Linked DNA regions of Homo sapiens: region 2 is linked to region 1. The links come from fine-mapping of genetic effects on gene expression. A gene starts in region 1. The other region holds a variant in brackets. All regions are shown on one strand. Distances are from middle to middle.

Region 1 (11,468 bases):
GAAACTATAAATTGCTGTTGATTTTTATGCACATTGGATATTCACGATCGATAGGAATTTTTAAATGTGGGGCACCTATTCAGTAAGGAATATGTTGCATTTCATTATTTATTAAAGTGAACATTTACAAGTAATACTACAGAATTTTAAATGTTACTCTAAAATATTTCATGTCATCTGGCCGGGCATGGTTGTTCACGCCTGTAATCCCAACACTTTGGGAAGCCAAGGCGGGTGGGTCATCTGAGGTCAGGAGTTCCAGACCAGCCTGGCCAACAGGGTGAAACCCCGTCTCTACTAAAAATACAAAAAAAATTAGCGGGGCATGGTGGCACATGCCTGTAGTCCTGGCTATTCAGGAGGCTGAGGCAAGAGAATTGCTTGAACCCAGGAGGCAGAGGTTGCAGTGAGCCGAGATAGTGTCACTGCACTCCAGCCTGGGCAACAGAGCGAGACTCCATCTCAAATAATAATAATAATAATAATAATAATAATAATAATAATAATAATAAATTTAAAAAATATTTCGTGTCATCTGAAATATTATCAGAAATGTTAATTTTATCATCTTGCAAAAATTTTTTAAAACTTAAAGAGCAGGTTGAAGCATTTAGATAGCTGGGAATCAAGCACTGCCCACGGGACAGGGCAAATCACTCCACAGCAAGGGCATCTGGGGCAGTGAGGAGAGGCCGGTAGCTCATCTCAGCAGAATCAGGCACAACATGCTCAGGACACTTGGCGACTCAGCCCAGGTGCCTTCCTCCCTCCCTCTGCTGTCTCTGTCTTGGGCACTGTGAGGGGGTCTGCCTCACTCTTCTTCCCCTCCCCTCCCGTTCTCCTCCCCTCTCCTACCCCCACCACTACAGAGCCAGACCACAGCCTCCACCCTGTGTTATTGTCTATGGCCCTGATAATCACATACACACAAACCGAGCACAGTAACCAGCTTTTCATCATTCTCTATATACGCAGCCTTAGTTTTTAAAAATTACTTCCAGCTACTTACAGGTATTGTAATAAGCCTAATTCTCCCTCTAGTGGTGATGAGAGGGTTTTCCTGAAATTGCAAGCGCTTCCTCCTTAGAGGCCAGGACAGGTGGCAGTGAGGGGGACCAAGAAAAAGAAAGCAGGAACGTTCTCTTCCACCCCTTTGGGAGGCATATCAGGGCCCCAGCTGTGTAGCCTGGTTGGGTAGGCAGTGGGCAGAGTGAGGCCGAGATGCTCTAGGTCCCTGGGCAGTGAGCACCCTTCTCCCTCAAATCCTGAAAATGAAATAGAAGCCTCACATTGCTAGTGCCAGACCACCAGGCCCACAGGAAAATCCTTGCTTTGACAAAAATGAAATCTCATCTCAGGGGACCCATTAGAATGTGGATAATATAGAAATATTCTCTTTTCCCTAAATTCTAAGTAAGTTATATATAATCTTTATGAGCACTGTTACTTGCATTGTTGGATCCTAAACACCATTACTGAAATTAGCTTTTCCTTAAAAATAAATCAGTGATGTATTGTCATAGTCAAACAACAACTCAACCTTCAGATGTTATTTTCATGTCTTACACCTTAGCTTAAAGCGGAAGGACAGAGAAAAAGTCTGAAGTATTTTTAAGCATTAAAAGGAGTTCCTAAACCTCAGAAAGCAGTTAAGGCATCACCAAGGTCTGAGTGGGAATCAGTGCGTTTTATGATGCCCATGGGTGTCAAAATGGGGAGTCCCCCCTTCTGGGGAGCTGCTGAGCCATCACCACAAAGCACAGCCATCAGACCCTTATCCAAGGAACTTCCACAGCAGGAAGGGACTCAGAGTGCAAATGAGAAACCCCTCCAAATTTAAAACAGTTTTGAAAGATGACACTGCACATCAGATTATTTCACATGTCTGTAAAACCCATTCAGAGAACAAAGACACTCTCAAAGAAGAGGCATATAGCAATAAAGTTAGTATAAAATTTGGATTTTTTAACTGATCTGCAAGCTCTATTATGAAAGCTGGGGAACGAGCCCAAATAGAGAACAAATGAAAATCATTATGTCTGTCTTAGTAGAATGGAAGGATGAAGAATCCCAAGAGATTTTGTGTATATTTGGGAATCCCCAGTAACCGGACTGTTTTAAGGCAGAGGCTGAGGTATCTTCCTACTAAGCACATGCAGTAGTGAGGACAATAGGCAGTGTTTCTTCTAGAATGTTAAGAATCCAGAGACCTAAACAGTTGATTACTGAACCCTGAACGGCTGGTCACTCGTTTGAGTTGGTGGCAATAGAAAGGTGGCAGAGATGTGACTGCCGGCCTCAGCGTTATGCCCGGTGCTGTCTGCCTCCCTCTCCATCTCTAAACAGAGATACAACCAGGAAGAAGCAACCTCAGAAAGCATGTTTCCATTGCTTGCACCAGCTGCCTCTTGAGACAGAAAGAAACTTCAGCTGAAAGGCCCAAGGAGTGCTCTGTCTCTTTGAAAGAGTTGCCTGTGAGTCACCGGTGGAGTCGGCTTCCACACTCAACTCAGCAAAGAGGAGCAGTTGCAAGGGGGAGGGCCAGGGCTTCCTTCCTCAGGGTAAGCACCCCTGCCCAATTCAGGAGTGAGAACTGGGGGCCCCCTTCATGTTTAGTAGGATTTATTCATGTGTCTTCCTAGCTCCTTGGTAGTTCACAAATAGGAATGAAAAGGCAAGGCCTCCTGGCATTGCCTCCTGATGGTGGCCAGGCTTGTGCACGCAAGGATGCCCTCTGATTCTCTAGCTCCCAGACCCAGGAAATGGAGAAGCGTCAAAACAAGAGGGTTTGGGGGATAGGGGCACGCTGAGCTTCCTAGGGTGGGGAAAGAGGTAAAGGCCAGACACTGCTCCAATTTTCAAATAACAGGACAGTCTGCAAGCTCTAGCCAGAAATCCAGCCAGAGAGACAGAATTAAAGAAACTAAACCCAGAATCTCCAGTTGTGTTTACAGCAACAGGATTTAACCCTTTGGGTCCCACTGTCCTTGTATCCTCATGCGCCCTCTTCATCTCTTCTAGAGTGATTCTAAGCTCCCATTAGCCGGTTGGTGTACTGGGAGGAAGGTTGCGGAATTTATGGTGAGATGATTTCTTACATTACCAGGCAGAAGCCTTATTATCCATTTCGACATGCGTGCTTTATGGGGGTGGGAGTGCGTGTGTTCCTCTGTGTGAAAGTGGCTGATGTGGAAGGTGTGTGTGTGTGTTTGCAGGACCTGGGAGGGGAGTCCTCCCAGACAAGCAGGGCTTTCTTCTGCCCACCTGGTTCCAATCCCCCCGCGCCTGCCTCCAATGCATTAGCTCTTTCCAGCCCGGTCTAAACTAGGCAGTTAGAACCACGGTTCCCGGGTTCTTGGAAATTTCAGAGTGATGGAAATGACAGAGAATGTCAGCCAAAGTGTGTGTGTGTGTGAGCCCCTGAAACAGCTGAGGTGGGAATTAGGGGTCGGTAAGGAGCCAGAAATGGCCCCTGCCCCCTGAACCTGGTTCTCAAAACCCCTTAAAACCACCAGATCCTAAAAGCGTCAGGAGACGAGCCCATTAATCTGAGTCCCCACACTCCCGGCTGCAGAGGAAAAAGCAGATGACCGTGTCCAAGGGAGCTGGGACAGGTGAGGTGCAGACCGACTTCCCAGTCCCCTCCCGGCCCGCCGTGCCGCAGCCCAGCCGACGGCTGGCGCGCCAGGGACTCCAGCAGACAGCGCCCCCCGCCGCCCTGTCGCCCAGCTCGGGGCCTCCGGGGATGCGGCCCCCGCGCCACTTACCGCGCGTGCAAGCCCGAGAACAGGCAGAGGAGGAGCAGCAGCTTCGGGGCCATGGTGCCGTGGAGCTCGGGGCGCAGGGTCCGGGGCCTCGGCCGGGCGCGGCTTCCTCCGGCGCGGACCTGGTCTCCGCCGGCCCTCTTTGCCCTGGCTTCCTCCGAGGCTGCTGGCCGCGGCGGGCGGGACAGGTATCTACTCTGGCGCTGGCCGCGCCCCCGCGGGGCGCACACTGGACGCACACGGGACGCCGGGCCACCGCGGCGCGCCGCCCCCACCCGCGCACTAGCGCCGGTCCGCGCAACCGGGCGGCGGGAGCAATGGGCGCCGGGGACCCCCTGGCGCGGCGCCGCCCACCCCGCCTGGAGCCGCGAGCGGGCGCGGGTGCCCAGGCCGGGGCTGTGTGCGCTGTGCTGGGAGGTGGGGGCAGCTGGGCGGCTGTCCCCTGGCAGCGCCTCCGAGGCGGTCCCGGCGGGGAGGAGTTTCCCCAATTACACGCCTGACAACGCGCAGGGCGAGGAAGGCGAGGTTTGAATGGACTCGGAGTTTGAGGCCAGGAAGGGGGCGGAGCTCCGAGGGGGAGGGGAGGCTGGGGATCCCGCAGGGAGCCTGAAGAAAGGTCCCCGGGGTTGGCACCATGAGAGCGAGCCCGCGGTCCGCCTTCCTCCAGCCATTTCTACCCCAGTGCAGGTTTCCTCCAGCGCTCCCTGACCTCCCGTGCCCGCCGTCGCCCGGGGTTGAGACGGTTTGCCAAAAGCAGCCCTTCCATCGCACTCTTCGTGCTAAGTCGGCTGAACTCCTAGGCACTGATAAGATTCTGTGCTTGGAAAGGTGGCTTTCTGCGGGAATATTTGGGAAAAAAGCACCCCAGATTTATGCCTTTCTTACAGAAAAGAGAGACTAACACATAGCAATAAACAGTAGAGGTGGAAAGGCATGTTAAAGGTAGGAGCTAGAAAGATCCTAAGGCAAGAAGCCAAAGACGTTCCGTTTGGTGGAAGCATGAGGTGCGCCTCATTCCATGTATTTTCATATTCCAAAAACCGAAAATGGCATTTACGCTTTCATTTGTCATAATCATTCAGAAAGTTAGTCTTGCACCATGTAAGTATTGCAATCGCAACAGTGTAGTAAATCCACTAGGAATTTTACATTTCTATCACCCCCAAAAAGTTCTTAGAAAATGTTTTATAACTGCTATTCATAGAATTATGTAAGGGTGTGATAACTGTTTCTTTAATATTGTCAAATAGCTTTGTTCGGCCAGGCACAGTGGCCCAAGCCGGTAACCCCGGCACTTTGGGAGTCCGAGGCAGGCGGATCACTTGACCCCAGGAGTTCGAGACCAGCCTAGGCAATGTGCAAAAACCCTGTCTCTACAAAAAATAGTAAAGAATTAGCTGGGCATGGTGGCATGGGCCTGTATTCCTCTGGTGTGTTCCCCCTTGTTTCTGGATAGGCATGAAGTGGAGGGGAGTGCAGTTGTTAATGACAATATTGTTTTTCAACAATGGAGCTGTCATCTCCCTGGCATCACCTTTCTGTCTCTGTGAGGTGCTGAACTCACCCAGCTCCCCGCCTTTCCAGGACTCTTTCTGGCATTCTCATCCTCCTCTGCCCAGCACATCCCTCCTACTTAGGTGCACATGCCCTATAAGGTCCCCTCTTTGATGAAGACTCTGACGCTCCTGCATTCTTCCACTTCCAACACCTGTACCACTCCTTTAGGCTTCAGGGGAATATGAGCCTTTATCATACTCTGCCCTAATCTCTAATTTTCTGTACCAAAATCTGAGCACTTTAAAAATCAGTTAGATGATGATTTATTGTTCCTTCATTGCTTATGTCGTCTCCACATAAGAGACTTGAGTCTCACTCTATCGCCCAGGCTGGAGTGCAGTAGTGTCATCTGGACTCACTGCAATCTCCACCTCCCGGGTTCAAGTGATTCTCGTGCCTCATCCTCCTGAGTAGCTGGGATTACAGGCACCCACCACCACGCCTGGCTAATTTTTGTATTTTTAGTAAAGATGGGGTTTCACCATGTTGGCCAGGCTCTTCTGCAACTCCTGACTTCAAGTAATCTGCTCGCCTCGGCCTCCCAAAGTGCTGAGATTACAGGCATGAGCCACCACGCCTGAGTGTGCTGCAAGAATGCTGCAAGTAGAAACAATTCTTTTGTGTTTCCCTTCTTAACACAGTAATAGGAACATAAGTAAAAATAACCATCTGACATTGATCACATAACAGGGGCCAGGGCCGACAGGAAGGCTTTACATTGATTAACTCATTTTAACTCTCACAACATTATTTCCGTTTCGCATATAGAGAAAAAGCACAGAGAAGTTAAGTCGCTTACCCCAGGATCACACAGCTAGTAGGTGAGGACTGGGGGTTAAAAGCCAGGCAGCTGGCTCCAATGTTTCATTCCTAATCACTATACCATACTGTCTGCCTGAGTAGGTGCTCAGCTGACATTTGTTGTTGGGCTAGTTGATGAAAGTTTTGGACTTCTTACCATATTATTTATTTTTTGAGCATGAGTTAAAATACTCACAAGTTGTTTATAATAGAAATAGACTGTTACTTGAGTGATTTTGTAAAATATCAGTAAACAAGAAGTGTCCTGAGATTTGTTTGTTGTTATTATTTTTTTTACAATTCAATCAGTGAACAAGAAAACGCAATACTGTTTTTACATCCCTGTGTTCTTTATTCTTTTCCTTTCTTGCATATTTCAACGTGCTATTATGAATGAATGCAAGATGATCCCCTCTGGCCTTTGGAATGCTTCGCTTCATTTATTAGATTGAGTAGGTCAACTTGATACGTCTGAACATTTTCTCTTGGAAAGCCCCTCCCCTCTTCCTGGAACGAGATTTTGTTTTTTAAAGCTAAATGAGCTGAAAGGTTGGGGAAAAATCAAAGCAAGCTTTCTAGGCGTTAAGTGTGAAAGCAAAATGCAAGGTTAAGAATCTTCAAAGGGGCCGGGCGCGGTGGCTCACGCCTGTAATCCCAGCACTTTGGGAGGCCGAGGCGGGTGGATCATGAGGTCAGGAGATCGAGACCATCCTGGCTAACAAGGTGAAACCCCGTCTCTACTAAAAATACAAAAAATTAGCCGGGCGCGGTGGCGGGCGCCTGTAGTCCCAGCTACTCGGGAGGCTGAGGCAGGAGAATGGCGTGAACCCGGGAAGCGGAGCTTGCAGTGAGCCGAGATTGCGCCACTGCAGTCCGCAGTCCAGCCTGGGCGACAGAGCGAGACTCCGTCTCAAAAAAAAAAAAAAAAAAAAAAAAAGAATCTTCAAAGGAGAAGCCACAGGCTTTCATGTCTCTCCCTTGCCCCGGTTGACCTGCGGGGATGCTCTGCGGAGCATGCGCAGTGCGCACTCTCCAAGCCGCCTCAGCCTCTCCATTTTCAGCCCTGGAGAAGCGGGCGGGATTTACACTTTCTCCCCCTAGCTCGCGGGAATAGAAAGGGAAATAAAAAGTAAGTGAAAGCGAGCGCCACCAGAAGACTGGCTCTTAGTCCTAAGAGGTTAGGGTAACGAATCGGTTCTCACAACCGAAGCGCAGACGTGGCGGTAATGACGGAACAGCTCCAGCCTGGCGCGCTGCTTTGCTCCTGGCTTGGCGCTGGGTCCTCGGCTCCGGAGGTTCTGGGGAAGACCTGGGCTGCCCGCGCAGCTGCGGGTTGGACTTCACCTCGGCGGGGGCGGCGGGACCCTAGCAGCGTTGCCAGGAAGCGCCTTTCAGATCCCGCGGTGGCGCGCTGCGCCCCGCAGGCCGCGGAACCACCCCGCTGCCCACGCGCCCTTCAGCGCGCATCCGCTGCTCCGTGGTTGCCCCAGGTTCTGCTTTGAGAAACATCTCTCCCACTCCCAAAACTGTACTTCTGGGTTACATGATGTTTCGTGGTTTTATATTTTGAAAAAGCGCCTTTCCCTTGTCAATCAAAACGGTACTATCAAGGGATAATGCACACACAACAAAAATGCACCGATCTTAAAAGTATGGCTCAGTGAACTATTTCGCATGTGTATACCATATGTATATGAATAGCATATGTATAGCATCTGGATTATTATATATAACAAATATATAATTATGTAATTCCCAGTGGCTGGGCCATCTTCAAGTCAGTGCCGACACTGGGTAACCAACTATTCAGGCTTTGGCCACAGAAGCCTGGTTTTGCCCAGTCTTGCACCTCGCATACATGTGGTCATGCAGTATTATCCACTTAGCCTCCGGCTTCTCTCACTCAGTGCAGTGTCTGTGAGATGTACCCTTATTGCTACATTACCAGTCATTCATTACTTTTTACTGCTGTGCATGATAGTTCATTGTGTGAATACACCACACGTTATTTATTTGTTCCTATGCCAATGGATTTTTGGGTTTGAAACTTTGGGATGTTATGAATAAAGCTAACATGAATATTCTTGTCTTTTGATGGACATATGTGTTCATTTCTCTTGGTTATCTGACTGAAAATAGAATGTCCAGATCACAAGGAAGGCATGTGTTTCATGATTATAAATATTACTACAGAGATTTCTAAAGCAGTTATATTCATCACGCATTGGCAATATATGAGTTCTGGTGTATACCCTTGATGAAATGTGGCCTTGCCATTATTTTTGTCACCATTCTGATATTTCTTTTTTTTTTTTTTCTATTAGACGGAGTCTCGCTCTGTCACCAGGCTGGAGTGCAGTGGCGCGATCCCGGCTCACTGCAACCTCTGCCTCCCGGGTTCGAGCAATCCTCCTGCCTCAGCCTCCCGAGTAGCTGTGACTACAGGCGCACATCACCACACCCAGCTAATTTTTTTGTATTTTTAATAGAGACGGGGTTTCATCATATTGGCCAGGATGGTCTTGATCTCTTGACCTCCGTGATCCACCACCTCGGCCCTCCCAAAGTGCTGGGATTACAGGCATGAGCCACCGCGCCTGGCCTGCCATTCTGGTATTTCATTCTGGTTTTGATTTCATAGAACTTCTTTCAAATTTTTACCAGCCATTGGAATATCTTCTTTTATGAAGTGTCATTTAAGTCTTTTGCCCATTTTAAAACTAGACTGTTGGCTTTCTTTTTATTTGTAGAAGCTCTTTTGTGTTTTCATATTTTTTTGTTTACCATTACATCTATTGCTTTAATAAATACCACCAATATTATACAAATATATGATTTACAATATCCCTATTATAGCAAAGAATAGAGTCATAAAATAAAATGTCTTTTAGGCATTTATTATGCCACGCATGCAAATTATTGTTCTCATTATGACATAAGAATAATACTCTTTTGGTGACAAAAGATATATTGTATTAGCTCAAAGTCCACTGAAGAGCTTCCAGGAAGTTCTAAATTAAAATCTGGCCATGTTTTCTATACAATAAACAGAACAGCAACAACCTCTGCTATCCCTTAAGCATAAACTATCCCTTTACATAAACTTAAGTAAATGGCTTGTTACGAATAAAAATAAATAACATTTTAGAAACTAGTTAACATCACTGGCCCAAATGTGGTTTTTACTTTCTTGCGTATGTCTAAGAAATGTCAACGTGAAGTATATATTAAAAATTAACAATAATTTCTAAGGTATACATGAGCCAAGCTGCTCACTCTTACTGTGGAAGCAAAACTTACTTCGGAAAGTAATATACAGAAGTAATATGTAAACATATAGAGCTTGAGATAGACTAAGAACATCCTTCTGTGTTCTATGGACCAAAATACAAAGGTCTCCATTACATATGTAAATGAACACACTTTCATTAGTTTGGGATATATTGATATGACATGACTGTGTGCATATTTTATGTACACCATAAAACAAATGTTGACAATGTCTTCAGTGACAACATGCATTCTAGCCCCAACTACTGGAAAGGATATAAAAACTTAATAAGAAAACTACTTTGCTTTGCTTTAACTAAAGATTTTAAGTGAAAAACAAAGCCAACATTCCTTGTTGCATCATGGACCGAGGTCTAAAATGTTCAGAGTCAACAATCTCTGTTTGCTCCCCACTGTAACAAAGCACATAAGCATTCTCTCTCTGTTCACAAAGTCTGATCATCCTCAGTGTTTTGTCTTAAAAACTGCTTTCCAAGTATGAGGGACCCATGCTGGTTACATTCTTTCCGTTGCCTATTTACACCTGATGTAGCCATATAGGTTGGCACCTTGTAGCACCACACTCATGATAACCACTGCTAACCACTTTACCCTGAAGGAGATGAGGCCACTAAAGATAAATATCACCCACAGCACTGGACAGGCATTAAGTCCCAACCAAAAGATTTGATTCAGCCTCTGAGACAGTTTTGTCCTCCCGAGAGGATGCCTTTCTGGACTCAAGCACCCAATGGCTCTTTCCATCTTCATCATGTGATTCCAACACCGTAGACCCACCACTAGTCTACCTGTGACATTCGTCACTGCCCTAAAGTCACATGACAAGATAGTTGTCACCATACAAGCAGTAAAGCTGCTGCTGACCAATTTGCAAAGAAGGTAGACCACAATTGCACAGACTTGAAAGAATAGCTGGAAACGTGAGGCCACTGGATATCTGATTTTGGATTGTTTTGTTTTGTTATTGTCTCTTCCACATCCAACACTGAAATGTCTTCAGTGTCATCATTACTGTACTGATGCAACATGGTAGCCCTGTGCCGGCCCCCTAATATCACATTTAAAAAATTACTATGGCCTTTCATTTTCTTAATATCTATTATTGTTAGTGCTCTGAATTTGTTCATTTATTTGTTTACTTATTGCTGTTCTAGGTTGTTTGCATCTCCGTATACATCAGCTTTTAAATTTTCCCCCAATTTTTAAAACTGTTCTCTTGGAAGTATTCACAAGTTTACAAATAAATGTGTAAAAATAATACTATAAGTTTCTATAATATTATCTAATCTACAGTACATAGACTAATTTTTCTAACTGATCTAATAATACCTTCAATAGCATTTTTCCCATATAGCCCAGGAACCCATTCAGGATCACACATTTCACTAGTTATTGTGTCCACTTGGTCTGTTTTTAGTCCAGAACAGGTTGTGGCCATTCTTGATCTTTCACAACACAGTAGTTTCAGTAGACAAAAGTATTTTGTAGAATGTACCTCTGTGTGAGTCTTTCTCATGATCAGATTCAGGTTATGTATTTTGGGAAGAAATATGACATAAGTAATGTTGCTTTTCTTGATGCGTTATTGTAGGAAACACACGATGTTGGTTTATCTCATTGTGGATCACACTGATCACTTAGTCAAGCTGTTATCTGCCAGGTTTCTCCACTTTAAAGTTCCTTCTTTTTCTTTCTGAATGGCTGACTGTTCTTTGGGGGAAATTATTTGAAAATGTTTAACTACCTTAGTTTTAACATGCATTGATGATTCTTGCTTGCTGCTTGTAAAATGGTGATTTTCTAACTTTACTGTTCTTCTACATTTATTAGTTGGTATTATAGGAAGCACTCCTCCTCTTTTTCTAGTGTTACTTTCTGTAGAGACTCATGGTTTCTTGTTTTATTTAATGCACTTTGATCCATTACTGTCATTATTTATTGTTGTTCTCAAATCATCCAAGATTTTGACAATAGGAACCTCTTCAAGCTGACTCCTGTATTTAGCATGCCCCCAATATTTATTGTTTGAGATTTGTCTCAATTCTTTTATCTTTA
Region 2 (8,000 bases), 84 kb before region 1:
TGCACACATCCTCTCGAGTTGCAATGGGAGCGGACTGTCATGACTTTCCTTCTGGTAGTGGATGTGCATGGAAACTTCCTTTATTTCTTCATCAGTGGGACTTCTTTGAGGCAAGTAAACATGGCTTTTCTATGTCTCGATTAAATGGCGAATGTCCTGAACTACACCGATTCCACCTGCTGGTATGATAGATTTCCAAAGAATAAGTACGTGGTAAGATTCCCAGACAACAACACCAGTTTTTACTTAGGAAACACCTGAAGGACATGAGCAATGGGAGCCCCGAGGGTGACCTGGCGGCCAGGACACCTCTCTCCATCACAGGTGCCCTCCACAGCCCAGAGGCCTTTCCAGGGGGCTCAGACACGTCTTCTAGGATCGTGCAGCCCCGTAGATGTATAAGGCACAGGAAACTGAGCAGACCTCAAACCACCCCATGACATTCTCTGAAATGTTTTTGTTTTAATAAATCTCAGGCATTGTACTTGTCATTTACCATTTTCTCCTAAAAATCAGAGGCATAAATCACCGTAAGTGTTGATGCCTTCCTGTAAGCTGGTTTCAGAAAACATTCTCTACTGAAACTACAAGAGCAGAAATGGTTTTAATCCCATAAAAATTATGTTCTGTGACTTTTGTCCTGGCCAGATCGGAAAACTTCTTTATTGAAGTTGTCAGCCACAATGGGCACAAGAAGCAGAGGAGTTTCATGTGTGTGAGTTAGGAAGAAAGATCCACCCTTGGAAAAAACCACCAGCTAAAAATCTGATGACCAAAAAAATGGAATCAAGGACTAAAAGCTTCAAGAAGGGGCTGGGGTTAGGGGTTCTGGCCACTGTTGGAAGGTTTATTTCTCCACCTGGACAATGGACATGAGAGCAATGTTTACTCCACACCCTGTCTCTGAATCCTTCCCTTGATAATAAGCAGGGAAGAGTATAGAGTCTGAACAAGAGGAGATAGGAGACAGGGACAATATTTTTCATTAAGGAGGACCCAAGCACACACTGCACACAGAGGAACTAGATGATGAGAAGGTGCTTTTTCCCGATCACAGTCTTGGGTCTCAAGAGAAATCAGTGAAGAATCCAGAATAGTGTGCTGGAGCCATTCTTAAAAAGCTACCCTACAAACGAGTTCCATTTATTGCAGAATAAATCAACAACTTTAATGAAAACGCTCATCCACCACCTCTCCCATCCTCACGTCCACTGGTTTTCTGTTTGCAGTGGAAGCCACCGTGGGGGGTCTTGTGAACTTCCCATTCAGTCTGAGCTTGGAGCACCAACAGCAGGATCTGAGCTCCTTCCGGCGGAGGCTTCTCACAAACGCTCTCCACACACCCCAGTTTCATTCTCCCACCAACACTGGACAACACTTCTCACTTTCTTTCCACAGCTTTTTCCAGCACTGCATGATCACTTTTAGAACATTCTTGCAAATTCTCAGGCTGGTTGTCTGGTGTTAATTTTCATTTCAGGACCTAAAACCATGCCTGACTCAAACAACGGGTTCAATATCTCAATATGTATGTTTATTTTCTTTTTTCTTTTCTTTTTTTTTTTTTTTTTTTTGGAGACAGGGTCTCACTCTGTCAACCAGGCTGGAGTGCAGTGGCACAATCACAGCTCACTGCGGCCTCAGTTCCCCCCAGGCTCAAGTGATCCTCCCACCTCAGCCTCCCAAGTAGCTGGGACTACAGGTGTGTACCACCACACCTGGCTCATTATTTTGCATTTTTTGTAGACATGGGTTTTCTCCATGTTGCCCAGGCTGATCTCGAACTCCTGGACTCAAGTAACCCACCACCTCAGCCTCCCAAAGTGCTAGGATTACAGGCTTGAGCCACTGCACCCAGCCTGTACATTTATTTTCTGTTTGTGACTATTTGTGATTTTTCTCCTCCTGCAAATTTTTAAAAAATATTACCTTGAGTTGATCACTGCAGAATGTATACATGTATCAAAGTGTCACATTGTACCTCATCAATATGTGCATTTATTATTTGCCAATTAAAATAATATAAAACTCTTTAAAAATTAAAAACCATATATTTCCCTAGTATTTCTGGGATGATTTTTTTTTCTCAATGACTTTTGAGAATGCTTTTGCTTTGTTCTCAAACCTTTGATAATCTCCATCATTACTGGTTGGGTATCCCTTATCTGAAATGCATGGGACCAGAAGTGTTTCAGATCTCAGATTATTTCATATTTGAAAATATTTCCATACAGATAATGAAATATCTTAATAATGGAAACCAAGTATAAACAGGAATTCATTTATGTTTCATACACACCTTATGCATGTAGCCTGAAGGTAATTTTATTATTCCTATGGGAACGCTGAAAACACCGTGTGTTCTGCGCCAGCGTTTGACTGTGACCTGCCATGTGAGGTCAGGTGTGGGATTTTCTATTTGTCGCATTAGGTCAGTGCTCACAAAGCTTTGGATTTTGGAGCCTTCTGGATTTCCGATTTTCAGATTTGGGATGCTCCGCCTGTATCTAAGTCTTCCATTATCTCCTTTTGACTTCCTAAATAAATACTTATAACATTAGCAAATAATGATAGCTTTAGAACTAATTTCCCCGAGTTACAGATGTAACAAGTTCAGGTTATTTTTTTGTACTGATTGGTCTTTCCATCCTTCTTAAGATGTTACGGGGTGAAAGCCCGGGACGTGCTAGCAAGCTGCTCCGGTGCGGGACACAGAGTCTCTATCACAGGCTGCTCCGGTGCGGGACGCGGAGCCTCTATCACAGGCTGCTCTGGTGTGGGACACGGAGTCTCTATTACACAGCCTTCTTTTGTTTGGGGGGCTAGTTGTTGTTGCTGCTGCTGCTGTTTTTCACAATCCTTTAAGAATGTAAAGACTATTATTAGCTGACAAGTCATTTAAAAAAAAAAAAAAAAAAAAACAGGTCTTGGCCCTTGGGCTGTAACTTACAAACTTTGCCCAGTTTCACTCTCAGGTTTGACGCTCTTGCTTTGTGGCTGACAACCATTCCACCAAGGGTCCACTCAGAGTCCCCCTCAAAACGAGGACAGTAACTTAGACTTTTGTAGTCGATCTTAATAAAGACAGGTAGTTCCCCGCTGGTCTCAGGGCTTCAGTGTGGTGCACAGCAGCTGTTCCTCCCCGCTCGATACAGAGCTCATCTCACAACCTGAAGCCCCCGGATCTGCTGAGTGTCCTTTCAGAGTAATAGCTGCTTTTGAAGCACCGTCCCTGGCATCAAGACTGATCTGTATCCATTCCATCTGACGGATCTGCAGCTCTGCGTTGTCCTGGCCAGTTTTCTGTATGGGAGTCAGGGCGGCACCACAAAATAAACGGATGCATTTC[C/T]GCCTTTCTTGTAACACTCAGTCAAGTCTTACAGCCTTGGGAATGTTGCTTCTGAAAAACGTGACTTTGGCTCTGGAACCTGTTTTGGAGGAAATTCTTTGATAACTTTTACAGTTTTTTCCAGTGTTGCTTATTTCCTTCTTCCTTGTTTATTTCTATTTTTATTTTAGATTCAGGGGGTACACGTGCAGGTTTGTTCCCTGGATATGTTTCGTGATGCTGAGGTTTGGGCTTTGATCGGTCCCATCTCCCAGGTAGTGAGCACAGAACCCAACAGGCAGTTTTTCAGTCCTTGGCCCCCTCACACCCTCCCTCCTTTTTTCTTTTTTTTTTTCTTTTTGAGATAGAGTTTGGCTCTTTCGCCCAGGCTGGAGTATAGTGGTGCGATCTCGGCTCACTGCAACCTCCGCCTCCCGGGCTCAAGGGATTCTCCCACCTCAGCCTCCTGAGTAGCTGGGATTACAGGTGCGTGCTATTTTTTTTAGTAGAGATGGGGTTTCACCAGGTTAGCCAGGCTGGTCTCGAACTCCTGACCTCAGGTGATCCACCTGCCTTAGTCAAAGTGCAGGGATTAGAGGCGTGAGCCGCCACACCCGGCCCCTCCCTCCTTTTGAAGTCCCCAGTGTCTATTCCCATCTTTATGTCCATGTGTATCCAAAATTTAGCTTCCACTTATAAGTGATGACATGCAGTATTTCATTTTTGTTTCTGCATTAATTCACTTAGGATCACGGCCTCCACCTTCCCATCCATGTAGCTGCAAAGGATATGCCTTCATTCTTTCTTAATGGCTGCGCGGTATTTCACGGTGTATATTTACACATTTTCTTTTTTCTGTCACCATTTATGGGCACTTTGGTTCATTCCATGTCTTTGCTATTGTGAATAGTGGTGCAGTGAACATACAAGTGCATATGTCGTTTTGGTAGAATGATTTATTTTCCACTGGGTATATACTAGGTAATGGGATTGCTAGTTCTGTTTTTACTTCTTTGAGAAATCTCCAAAATGCTCTCCACAATGGCTGAACCAATTTACCTTCTCACCAACAGTGTATAAGTGTTCCATTTTCTCTGCAGCCTCTCCAACCCTGCTGGCTTTTAACTTTTTAGTAATAACTATTCTGACTGGCGTGAGATGGTGTCTCACTGTGGTTTTGATTTGCAATTCTCTGACGGTTAGTGATGTTGAGGATTTTTTCATTTGTTGGTCACTTGTATGTCTTCTTTTGAGAAGTATCTGTCCATGTCCTTTACTCACTTTCTAGTGGGGTTATTTGTTTTTGTTTGTTGATTTAAGTTAGTTATAGATTCTGGACATTAGGCCTCTATTAGAAGCATAGTGAATATTTTCTCCCATTCTGTGGGTTGTTGATAGTTTCTGTTGCTGTACAGAAGTTCTTTAGTTATTTGGTCCCACTGTCAATTTTTGTTTTTGTTGCAATTGCTTTTGAGGACTTAGCCATAAATTCTTTGCCAAGGCCAATATCCAGAAGGGTATTTCCTAGGTTTTCTTCTAGGATTTTGTTATTTTGATGTCTTACATTTAAGCCTTTAATCCGCCTTGAGTTAATTTTTGTATATGGTGATATGTAGGGTCCAGTTTCATTCTTCCGCATGTGGCTAGCCTGTTTTCCCAGCACTATTTACTGAACAGAGAGTCCTTTCCCTATTGCTTATTTTTATCAATTTTATCAAAGATCATCTGGTTGCATGTGTGTTGCTTTATTTCTGGGTTATCTACTCTATTCCACTTGTCCGTATGTCTGTTTTTGTGCCAGTACCATGCTATTTTGGTTAATGTAGTCTTGCAGTATAGTATGAAATTGTGTTTCCCTCTTCTTTTGATCCAGGTTAATCTTTCCCCCAAATTGTCCACTGTATCTAGACTTTTTAAACTATGAGCATAGCTCTACATTAGGTATTTTAATCATCTGCTGATCCATTTGCTGAATCTTCTTGCTCATTTATTTTTGTTTGTCTTGATACTAGATTTCGTGTGTTTTAGAAGCAGCAGGAGGGAAGTGGCCTGCCATCATGCACCCTCACAGGCACTGTGGCACTTCTTTTGTCAAGGAGTTACAGGAGGAATGAAGGGCCTTATGCTTAGATTTTCTGTGATTCTCCAGGCCTAACACTCCACATTGGCCCACAGAATGCCAAGTTTTTCTACCACCTGTGCCACACGCCGAGGCCCCACTGGCCACTGGCTATGGTGCCACCACCTGAGGGCTGAGTCCTTTCTCTGATCTGGTCACCATTTGCGGCACGGGAGTGACAGCACCCCCCCAAGGTGATCAGAGGTGTTGTGATCAACGTAACTCAGCACTCTCAAGAGACAAAGACAGACCAGTCCCCACCAGAAATTTCATGGGGGTGGGACAGAGAACACACCATCCTTCTACCAGACATGGCATTCTTCCTCTTAGATCAGGGGGCCCCAACGCCCGATCTGTGGCCGGGTATCAGTCCAAGGCCTGTCAGGAACTGGGCCACACAGCAGGAGGTGAGAGGCGGGCGAGCAAGAGAAGCTTCATCTGTATTTACAGCCGCTGCCCATCACTCACATTACTGAGCTCCGCCTCCTGTCAGATCAGTGGCAGCATTAGATTCTCACAGGAGCACGAACCCTATTGTGAACTGCACATGCAAGGGATCTAGGTTGCACACTCCTTATGAGAATCTAATGCCTGATGATCTGTCACGTCTCCCATCACCCCCAGATGGGACCATCTAATTGCTAGAAAACAAGCTCAGGGCTCCACTGATTCTACATGATGGTGAGTTGTATAAGTTGTATAATTATTTCACTGTATATTACAATATAATAGTAATAGAAGTAGACTGCACAATAAATGTAATGCACTTGAATCATCCTGAAACCCCCAGCCCTGGTCCGTGGAAAAACTGTCTTCCATGAAACCGGTCCCTGGTGCCAAAAAGGTTGGGGACTACTGTCTTAGATGGTATCTTCCTGCTGTGTCCCCACACAGAGGAAGGGACAAGAGTTATCTGAGGTCCCTTTTATAAAGTCACTAATCCCATGTGTGGGGCCTCCACCCTCATGACTTAATCCCCTTCCCAAAGGACACACCTCCTAATATCACCACCTTGGGAGTTAGGATTTCAACAGATGCATTTTGGGGGAGACACAAAATTCAGTCCACAACATATACTATTCATCAAAATGTGTATCCATTATAAACAATGGCTAATTCACTATAGTTTATCTTCTGGATGGACATTGATGGATAGATGCATTTTGGAGGGACATAACCTCAATAAAAAAAATAAAATCAATAAAACAGCATTTCTTCTGAGATTCTAAATTGCCAGTAAATTTAGGTCAGGTCTAATCATTACCTAAAATGACTGAAAACAGGAGAGTCAACAATTGTAGCTTGTCTAGATTTTTTCCCTTTGGAATGAAAGTCTATAGAATTTAAGGCAAATGTAAAAAACAACTGCACTATGGTCATCTAATAAATACAAAGAATTTGTGGTCTGAGTCCTATTGCCTCAATTTATCTGGTTACACCTAGCATTGTATGACTTTTATGTGCTACAGCTAACAGCAGTATAAATTTGACCATATTTGGATCATTTTCCTCTTACCATATAAAATGGATAAATCTCTTCCTCTCATGAGTTTAAAAACTACATAATTTGCAATAGCAGGACCATGATATTAAACATCATATTATAAGCAAAATATGTACAGCTATTGGTAATAAATTGTAATGCTTAATATATAGTAATCAGTGGTAATACTGTATGACTACTATAAGTAATTTCCTTGTAATTACAGATAATTAGTCTATAACTTAAGAAATAGTTAATAATATTATAATTAAATTTAAAAAGTTTATAAAAATAACTTATTGTCATCCACTTGGAAATAAAACACCCAAGAATAAAAACAGCCCCCTCCAGAAGTCTGAATCTTAATAACTCAGCTGCTTCTACATTACTGAGTTTAGGTATTCGAGGAAATCTTGTTCTCCTGGGCAAATAAGGGCTTTACAGCTTTACTGGTAGTAAAACCCAGAGATCCTCCTAAGATCCCCTGAGATGCTATCTTATCCTAGGAACAGCAGGACGAAGGGCAAGGCAATGGTGTGTGGCTGCCCTGCCACCTCCCAGGTGAAGGGAGTTGGCTGGAGACCTGAACAGCCCTGCTGTGCCTGCGAGAAAGGGACAGTAATTTCACCCACCCTCGGGAAGCAGGGGAGAATGCAGTTTGGGGTCACCAGGGGGCCCCAGGGACAGAGTTTCAGGCATGAGCACAGAAGAAGGAGGAAACAGCTCAAAGCAAATGCCTTCCTTCATACAGGAAGTAAAATATTGTGTCTTTTCCCTACGGCTAATCTCTTTGTGTGTCATCAAAGAACATGTGGAGACTATCTCAGTCCATGCCCAATATAGAGACTAAATCTCACTTTAGAATCTGCATATACATAGGTATCAGAACGGGATGTACCAGAGATTAAATTTAAATCTTCTTCCTCTACCAAAAAGCTGTGTGTTTCCTCTCTGCTTTTGGAAAGGCCCGTCTCAGAACAGAATAGAGAAACCCACTTATTATAGGTCTTATTCAACATATTTCAGACAACATCACAGGCATTTGATGTATTATCTAATTAATCCACAAT

Evidence for each region. PIP is the estimated chance that this variant, and not a neighbour inherited with it, causes the effect.
Region 2: its variant is fine-mapped to the expression of GABRG3 in spleen (GTEx, PIP 0.95).

The regions. Positions count from the first base shown.
Region 1 is chr15:26,963,888-26,975,355 of GRCh38, reverse strand. It overlaps GABRG3 (gamma-aminobutyric acid type A receptor subunit gamma3), which reads right to left and starts at 4,175. Exons shown (of 10, transcript NM_033223.5): 1 at 3,768-4,175. The coding sequence starts at 3,820. It also overlaps the pseudogene TVP23BP1.
Region 2 is chr15:27,049,928-27,057,927 of GRCh38, reverse strand. The region is part of intron 3 of GABRG3 (gamma-aminobutyric acid type A receptor subunit gamma3); the gene reads right to left. The region is part of intron 2 of LOC124903449 (a long non-coding RNA gene); the gene reads left to right. Among named protein-coding and RNA genes, the nearest start is that of GABRG3, 83 kb to the right of the region's middle. RefSeq lists enhancers at 1-236, 5,115-5,614. The variant C/T (reference allele first, on the strand shown) is at 3,350.